Linked DNA regions of Homo sapiens: region 1 is linked to region 2. Evidence: fine-mapped expression QTL. A gene starts in region 2. The other region holds a variant in brackets. All regions are shown on one strand. Distances are between the middles of the regions.

Region 1 (4,393 bases), 74 kb before region 2:
TTTTTCTGTATTTAACCAAGATCACACTTTAAAACTAGACAGAGAATCATGGGTACCTTGTAAAAAACCTACCACGGACGCCAGACCTGGTGCTGCAGACACATGTGTTTTGTCAGGTAGATTTAAGTTGTAACAGGCAGAAGAAGGAAAGCAGTTTGGCTTGGGTGCCAACCGGGAGATTAGCAATTTGCTGATTTCAGCTGTTTTATGGCAACATTTATAAAGTTGACTAATTTTCTCCACAGATATTTTGCCAATTAGCATTAAGAAACAAGAGAATTTAGAAATAAACTTTTGCTCTTTTCCTATCCAAAGAAAGTGGTCTTTTGTTTTTAAAAATCTATCATCTTTTTCTTTGATGAGAGAAATTATATTTGAGGCATTTAGTTAATCTGCTATTCTTTGAAACATACACATTCTTATTTTGGAAAAATTAAAAACATTCATCTCTACATTCAACATTCTTTAAGACTGGTGGGATTGTGAGTTGCAGTAGTAGCAGAAAGAAAAGACAGAACGTGGAAAAAAGCCGTTTCCTTTCTCTTTTTGTTGCAACTTCTAGTCCCTTGTCATTTGTTTGTCTTTGTCACACTTGCAGGCCTTTCCAACCCCCAGAATCTAGGGTACTGTTATACATAACTAGAAGACTTCTATGCGCCAGATTATTTAATGCTCCTCATTCCCTTTGCATTTGGTGGCACGTCTCCCTCATGTCTTTGTATTAAACTGTCAGTCACCAGCATAGGTAACACAGTACACTTTAAATTTCTTGTGAAAATCAGCCCTTGGTCACATTGTCTTAGCCATGGGCCAAGGCCTTCAATTCCAGCCCCACCTCAGGAGTTCACAGATAGTGAGTCAATACGTTCCCTGTAATTTTAAGCCAGCTCGACTTGCGGTTTCTGTTACTTGCAACCAGATGCACCTAATGGATCCTGATTGTAATGAACTTTATAATTAGATTTTCTGTTATGTGTTGGAAATGAAACAGAGTAATTCTCCTCTCCTGGCCAAGGAACTTACACTCCCAAAGAGACACGAAGAAAAGTGAACACTTACTGAGCATCTGCTGTGTGTGCTGGGTGTTTCAGAGACATTTCCTCATGGAATGCTGAAGATGGCCATTACTGGGCCTGCTCCCTCTTCTTGCAGGTATGAGTGATGGGGTAGAATCGGCGAATCCTTTAGATCTTTACTGCATTGTTGCTGAAGTTATGCTGATTGTGACTATTTCTGGGCTGTCAATGGATTTTTATGTGGCCCTGAGCACAGTGTCTCAGGGAGGTAGGGCTATTTCCAGTGTCTGAGCAGAACTAATTTCACATCCCCCCCAACAAGGTATCTAGGGTCACCTGGTGCGTTGTTACTTGCTTTTCTGCTAACCTGCTTTCCTTGCACACAGTAGAAAATTGGGCTAGGAGTAACATACTGTTCTAACTATAATTAAAAGAATTCCCCCTCATTGGCCAAGTGCAAGCACATGGGGTTTTTACACTCTCAGTCGACTGAATTACATTCTAGGTGCACTGAGAGTTTGCTACTATGGGTGTTATCTTGTTTTCTGAATTCCACTGGGTGATAAAATGCAACTACAGCTGTGTCCTTCTGTGGGAAGGAGGGAGTCCAGTGAAGTCCTCTGTGCCAGGGCTGGGAGAGATGGTCATGAGGGTTCTTATCCTTTGACCTTAGCCATGACCCCAGGCTGGCTTTACCTTTGACCCTGCCCTTTTGATGTGCCCAGGGCTGGTCTGGCCTGGCTAGTAGTCACTCCTTGTGTGGCAGTTAGCTGAGGGTATATCTGAGGGTGATATAGGGTATATCTGTTGGTTGAAATTAGCTGGGATGAAAACATACCTTTCATCATAGGCCAATGGCTCATTGAAAAGAAATTAGTCATGAACTTCACTGTCAGCTGAAAAGTAGTCATTAAGGGCCCTCCTCCAACAATAGGACACTTGTTCCGGTTTCAGGGTCACCTGATCCACACCAATAGGGGAAGACTGGGGAAGAATGCTGTGCAAAACGTTTTCAGAGGTTGTAACAGGCAGGTCTGCATTTTTAGAATTTTTTTTTTTTTTTTGGCTAGCTGTATATGATTGAACAGTTTTCAGTTTCAAAGTTGCAGGCTTTGGTGTTTAGATCCTTCCTAGGCTGGTGGTAGAAGAATCCTGGGATTCTGGGTTAGTCCTCGGCGGAGATGGCCAAGCACTACATGGGACCGAACTCCGGGCCTGAGCAGCTGGCTTGGAGGGTGTTGGCTTTTCTCCTTCCTGGTGGGTGTGGAGGCGTGAGGGGGGATGGTGGGGGGATGGAAGATTTCAGTGAGAGTTGTTTATTGCTAAAGGTCTACAGGAGAGAAGACGATTTGAAAGGCAGGATACAGTAGGTTAAAAAGGTTGTCCTGTACAGAACACACCCACAGAAATTGCACACATGTAAGGAAAATTGTGGCAGGAAAGAAGCTTGGCTCTTTTGCCTTTCTTCATTTCCGCCCCCAAGTTTGCCTTGAACTTGGAATCTTACGTTATAAACGTTGCCAAATTGCAGCTCCAATCAGGAAACAGATGGTTAGGCAGTA[C/T]CAGAAAACACAAATAATTGTGGGGACCATGAACATTAGTTCATGAACATTAGAAAACCCTGATGGAAAGTTTAGAACTATGTACATTTTTTTTTTTTTTGGTGAATATCAGACTTAAATAATTGCGAAAAGAATGGTCTAGAAATATTTTGCTAGGTATTAGAATTTTGTGGTACAGTAAACAATTAATCAACTTCTAGTTTATAAAAAATCTGCTGTGCTGTATAATTCTTAAAAATAAATTTAGTCAGTGATGGATGCGCTGAGGGCCCTGACCACCACGAAGCAATAGATCAGGTAGCAAAATGCACTTGTACCCCACGGATATAGACAAAAAACACTAAAAGTAAATACATAGATAAATAAATTTTGTTAAGCTTATCTGCCTTAGTTTCTGTCTAGGTGGCTGTAAACACGCCCTGGTCTCATTTCCGAGGCTTTGTACTTCCTCTTTTCTCTCCTGGGACAGCTCTGCCCAATTTTTCCTGTTTCCAGGCTTTAGTCCCCTTCTCGGCCCCTCCCTGAAGCTTCTTCTGGTGAATTCTGCAGTTCATTCATTTCTTCTTCTTCTTCTTTTTTTTTTTTTTTTTGAGACAGAGTTTCACTCTTGTTGCCTAGGCTGGAGTGCAATGGAGTGATCTTGGCTCACTGCAACCTCTGCCTGCTAGGTTCAAGTGATTCTCCTGCCTCAGCCTCCTGAGTAGCTGGGATTACAAGTGCCCGTCACCATGCCCGGCTAATTTTTGTATTTTTGGTAGAGACAGGGTTTCACCATGTTGGCCAGGCTGGTCTCGAACTCCTGATCTCAGGTGGTCCGCCCACCATGGCCTTCCAAAGTGCTGGGATTATAGGCAGGAGCCACCACACCTGGCCCTGGAGCTCATTCATTTCTATTTGTTTCTGAAAGCAGGGACTCTAAATATTACTAACCCCATTTTGGCTCCTAGTTGTATGCTTATCTCTGTTAGAGAAGACTCTTGAAATTATCTAAGGAATGTAATACTTCATCCAGTTTTTTAAAACTCTAGAAAGCTAGATTCTGCAGCTTCTTAGTAGCCTATAACCGACTCTTTTTTTTTTTTTTTTTTTTTTGAGACGGAGTCTTGCTCTGTCACCCAGGCTGGAATGCAGTGGCATGATCTCGGCTCACTGCAATCTCTGCCTCCTGGGTTCAAGCGATTCTCCTGCCTCAGCCTCCCAAGTAACTGGGATTACAGGTGCCTGCCACCATGCCCGGCTAATTTTTGTATTTTTAGTAGAGACAGGTTTTACCATGTTGGCCAGGCTGGTCTTGAACTCCTGACCTCAAGTGATCCGCCTGCCTTGGCCTCCCAAAGTGCTGGGATTAGAGGCGTGAGCCACCACACCCAGCCTATAACTGGCTCTTACCCTTACTGTCGTTAGGCTCTTCCTCTGACTCTCGGCTCAATTAAAAAGATGAGGTAAACTTTATACACAATCCCTTCATGTATATTTAAGGAACAGTGATGTCTCCTTTTAACTTCACCTCTGCAGACCAAACACTACAGATTCCGTCAAAACCTGTTACAGCATGCTGATGTTTTTCAATCTCCAATAGGAGTATTAGTCAGCTATTAAGAATATTTTGCTAATTTGTTACCAAATATGGATTATCCATGGCGATGGTCTACCTGAAATTTCCCCTGTGAAATGGACATGGTTCAGTGAGTTTGAACATTGATACACTCAGTTCTTAATCGTCTTTCTAAATTCAGTGACAGTTCTTTTTTTATTGCCTAATAACCGCTTGCAAGAAGTCAAGTCCAGACTCTTCCTGATTTTGTAGGAGCGTTT
Region 2 (4,333 bases):
CAGAAAGTCAAGATCCCTTCTACCCCAGGGCCTTTGCACAGACTGTTCCCCCTTTCTGTAACACCATCTCCCCCACTCTTTGCTTGAGTGGCTCCTCATGCTGTAGGTCTCAGCTCAACTGTCATTTCTTAGAGAGATTATTGTTCTTCATAGAACTTAGCACAATTTCTGCATTTATTTGCCTACTGTTTCTCTTCCATACTAGACGGTTTGCTGCAGGGTCATGTGTGGTGTTCTGTTTGCCCAGCACCCATCCCAGGGCTTGCGTATTCTAGACAGTCAGCCATTGTTTGCTGAATGAATGACTATCACAGTTGCCACAGCAGTCACCATTAGCTTTAAGTCATAGCTATTATAATCATTCATATAACCACCTTTGGCTCTTGGGAGGTACTGAGTAATTGTTGAATTGAGATATCTAAATGTCAGTTCTCCTACATTCATTAATACAACTTGTTATTACCTTATGGTCCTTTACACCAGCGGCCCCCAACCTTTTTCACACTGGGGACCAGTTTCGTGGAAGACAGTTGTTCCTTGGACTGGGGTGGGGGTAGGGTTGGAGAGCAGAAGGTTTTGGGATGATTTGAGTGCATTACATTTACTGTGCACTTTATTTCTTTTATTATTACATTGTAATATATAATGAAATAAATATACACTCACCATAATGTGGAATCAGTGGGAGCCCTGAGCTTGTTTTCCTGCAACTAGAGAGTCCCATCTGGAGGTGATGGGAGACAGTGATAGATCATCAGGCATTAGATTCTCATAAGGAGCACGCAACCCAGATCCCTCCAAGCATGGTTCACAATAGGGTTCGTGCTCCTGTGAGAATCTAATGCAGCCACTGATCTGACAGGAGGCTGAACTCAGGAGGTAATGCCAGTAAGCAATGGAGAGCTGTTGTAAATACAGATGAAGCTTCACCACCCACCTCCTGCTGTGCTGCCTGGTTGCTAATGGGCCGAGGACTAGAAGCTGCACGGGGTCCGTAAATATCTGTGGGGTAGGTAAATATCCAAGCAGTCCATGGCCTGGGAATTGGGGATCCCTGCTTTATACAGCTAGCTTTCTATAACTTCTAAAGCTGTAATCTTTCTGTTCTTAGCAGTTCTCTTACAGGAAAGAAGACATTGAACTAAAAGTGCCTTCTATAACTTCTAAAGCTGTAATCTTTCTGTTCTTAGCAGTTCTCTTACAGGAAAGAAGACATTGAACTAGAAGTGCCTTTCCCAATTAAAAATAAAAACCACAGAACATTAGTGAATTGGTTGACAGTAATACATTTTGATTATGTAAATATAAATTCCATAGGCTACTTAGTGATTATTTATTTATTTACCCTGGGTATCCCAAGAGGTAGTACAGTGGCCACAGGTTATAGAGGGCGGTCTTGAGATCTGAATGAGGAGAGCTCTAATTCTAGATTTTATAATGCCTGTGGCTTAACGCCATCCTGCTCTGCCTGGTTCTTCAAGATAGTTGCTACCCCCCTCAAATAATTCAAGCCTTGGAATAGCACAGATTGTGTTAGAACTTCCTGAATCCTAACCAGCTAGAATCCACTGGCTTGTTTTTGCGATATCAGCCTGTTAGAAGCATATCCCTATAAAGATTTAATATCCCTGTCTCTGCATCTTGGCACCTGTGAATATGAAACAACAGCATAAATATGATTTTGAACGTTGCATTGTCACAGATGAAAAAATGCACCAACATGTCAAATGCAGCGCTGAAAAAGGAAATCGGGCTTATTTTTGTCGTTGTTTACTGTACCAAAGCATTTTTGAAAACCCAAATCGAGGAGATAACCGTTTTTGAATGAACGGCAGTGCAAAGCGTGGTCGGGGTTAGCAGCAACGTGGCTGGGCGCCTTTAACTCGGCGTGACCTCCGGGTCCCAGGCCCGCGTCCCGGGCCCAGCGCCCAGGCCCGGGCGGCGCATTGGCCCCTCCTCCCCTCGCGCGCCGCGCGCATTGTTGTCCTTTAGCGATTGGTTGTTGGACCAGAAACAGCTGTGCAGAGCCGTGCCATCTAAAGAGCTGTGGACCTGAATGCAGCGTAGCGGGCTGGCGGTGACTTACACCGGGACTCCAGAGGGAGAGAGGAAGCGCTGCAGGCCACTTGCATTGCGTCTTCCAGGCTGCGTGGACCCGGCGCCCCGGCGTGTGCGGTTGTGGGGGAGCTCGCCGTGGCCTCCCCTCCCTCTGGCTTTAGCTTCCTTTGGGGTTGGCGCAGGTGGGCCAGGCAGCGCACCGCAGATCTCCCCGTTCCCACGAAGGCTGGCTCGCTGTCTCTCTCCGAGCGGGAGGGACCATCCTAAAAATATGTAAATATCCAAGCGCTGGCTCCAGGCTGGGGCAGCTGCCAAGGTCCCCGCGCCGCCGCCGGGTGTTTTACATGAAAATGAGAAGCCTGATGGGAACCGCGTTCTAACTTAAGGCAGCCTGGTGATTAGCATGAGACTGGGCGGCTGTCCTGCTTCCTGCCCTTCAATAGCCGTTCCGCGCGCTCGCGCCGGAGCAGCGCTGCCGCCGCGCGGGGGTCGATCGCAGGCTCGGCGTCCTTGGCAGCCATGGCTCCGGCGCCGCCTCGGCCAGTAAGTAGGAGCATGCATGTGTAGGGGGCACATGCGTGTCGGCGCACCCACCCAGCCATCCACCCGCGCGCACGCACAGCGCCCGGAGCCTCGGCAAGGGGAAGATTGACGAGGCGCTGCAGTCGCGGGGACGACGCGGGCTCTTCCTGGATTCCGCAGGAGCCCGCCCGCCGCAGCTGCTGTCTGCAGAGCCTGCTCGGATCCTGTGCACACGCGCCCCCCGCTCGAGCCTCTGTGATGAAGACTGTCTCCCGGGGACTGCAGCGGAGGCAGAGCCAGCCAGCGCCGGGGACTGCGGGCCGTGCGGCTGATAGGCCCGCGGGGACACGACTCGGACACTGTCATCCCCACGCCTCGCGCTGAGCTGCCCGGCGCGGAGGGTCTGCCGCCGCCCCTCCGGCCTCCCGCACGCCCGATCCCGGGTCAGCCCCGGAGGCCTCGGCTGCCTCATTTGTTTGGGTCTTTTGTGCCGTGGCTCCCAGTTGGCCAAGCACTCCTGCGCTGAATCGGGCCATTGTCTGCGCTCCCATTGCCTTCACGCTGCAAGTCTCGGCGCCCCCACCCCGCCCGCCCCCTCCCCGCCTCCTCCCGGCCGGGGAGCCTCCTAACGTGCCTTTCCCCCCAGGAATCTGGAAGCTATAAGCCGGGCGGATTGCAAATGAAGTGTAATGCATTGTGGGACGTGTGTAAAATCGGAGCCTTCGCCGTGGGGGTGTGGGGGGGCGTGGGGAGGGCCGGACCCGCCGCTGGCGGTGTAGACGCCGACGAGGAGGGGCTGGGAAAATGTGCGCAGAGTCCGCCCGGGTCGTGCCCGCCGTAGACGGATGAAGGAGCGCGCTGCGCCCCGGCGCTGAGGCCCCGAGGATCGGGGCGGCAGGTCGCCCTCCCCACCATGAAGAAGACCCGGAGCACAACCTTGCGGCGAGCCTGGCCTAGCTCGGATTTCTCGGACCGGGCCTCGGACCGCATGAGGTCCCGCAGCGAGAAGGACTACCGCCTGCACAAGCGTTTCCCCGCGGCCTTCGCGCCCCAGGCTTCGCGGGGCTACATGACATCAGGTTGGTTGGTGACCGCGTTTCTGCCCCCGGGCCGGGGCCGCGGGACGTGCTCGGTACGCCGCGGCCCGGGTGCTTGGAGGAGAGGACGGGCAGTGATGGATGCGATAAGTTATGGGGAAAGCAGGAAAAAATTAGCTCCCATCCACCATTTTGTACCTCCCAAGATCCACAGCAGGCCCTCTCAATATGGGGTTGGAGAGCTATTAGTTAGGTAAAACGAGGGAGGGGGGACGAGCCGGGCGTTTTGGCTGCAGGGAGATAAATGACTGCAAGCCCCGGCGCTGCAGCCTCCTCGAGCTTTGTGGAGGATCCTGCGCCCAGGGTTGCCTGCAGTGCCAGGCTTGCTGGCTGCTGCATTGTGGCCGGTTATCTGAGTGGGTATTTCCAGCAGCCCCCTGTTCTCCAAAAGGAACAGGTTCCATGCGCAGCTCTGGATGGGCTGAGTCAGGGGAGAGTCCTGCAGACATCCCAGGCTGGTCTGATTTGCACGCAGAGAACTGTGTTGGAGCTTACTGAACGCGTTCTGTGGGGGTAATGGTGTGGATGCGGATTGAATGCTCACATGATTCTGTGTGGATTTAACATATGTTGCTTTGAATTAGGCTGTATGGAAAGAATGGAGGCTGTATCATGTGTTTGCATGTCAGACAGGAGGGACAAACAAAACGGTAAAT

What was found. PIP is the estimated chance that this variant, and not a neighbour inherited with it, causes the effect. A credible set is the group of variants that fine-mapping cannot tell apart.
Region 1: its variant is the best candidate, but not a certain one, in a credible set for the expression of STOX2 in monocytes after R848 (Quach 2016, PIP 0.86).

Annotation. Positions count from the first base shown.
Region 1 is chr4:183,828,839-183,833,231 of GRCh38, forward strand. It overlaps a transcript of STOX2 not described here. Among named protein-coding and RNA genes, the nearest start is that of STOX2, 74 kb to the right of the region's middle. The variant C/T (reference allele first, on the strand shown) is at 2,579.
Region 2 is chr4:183,903,298-183,907,630 of GRCh38, forward strand. STOX2 (storkhead box 2) reads left to right here and starts at 2,010. Exons shown (of 4, transcript NM_020225.3): 1 at 2,010-3,659. The coding sequence starts at 3,494. RefSeq lists enhancers at 1,553-2,262, 2,263-2,970.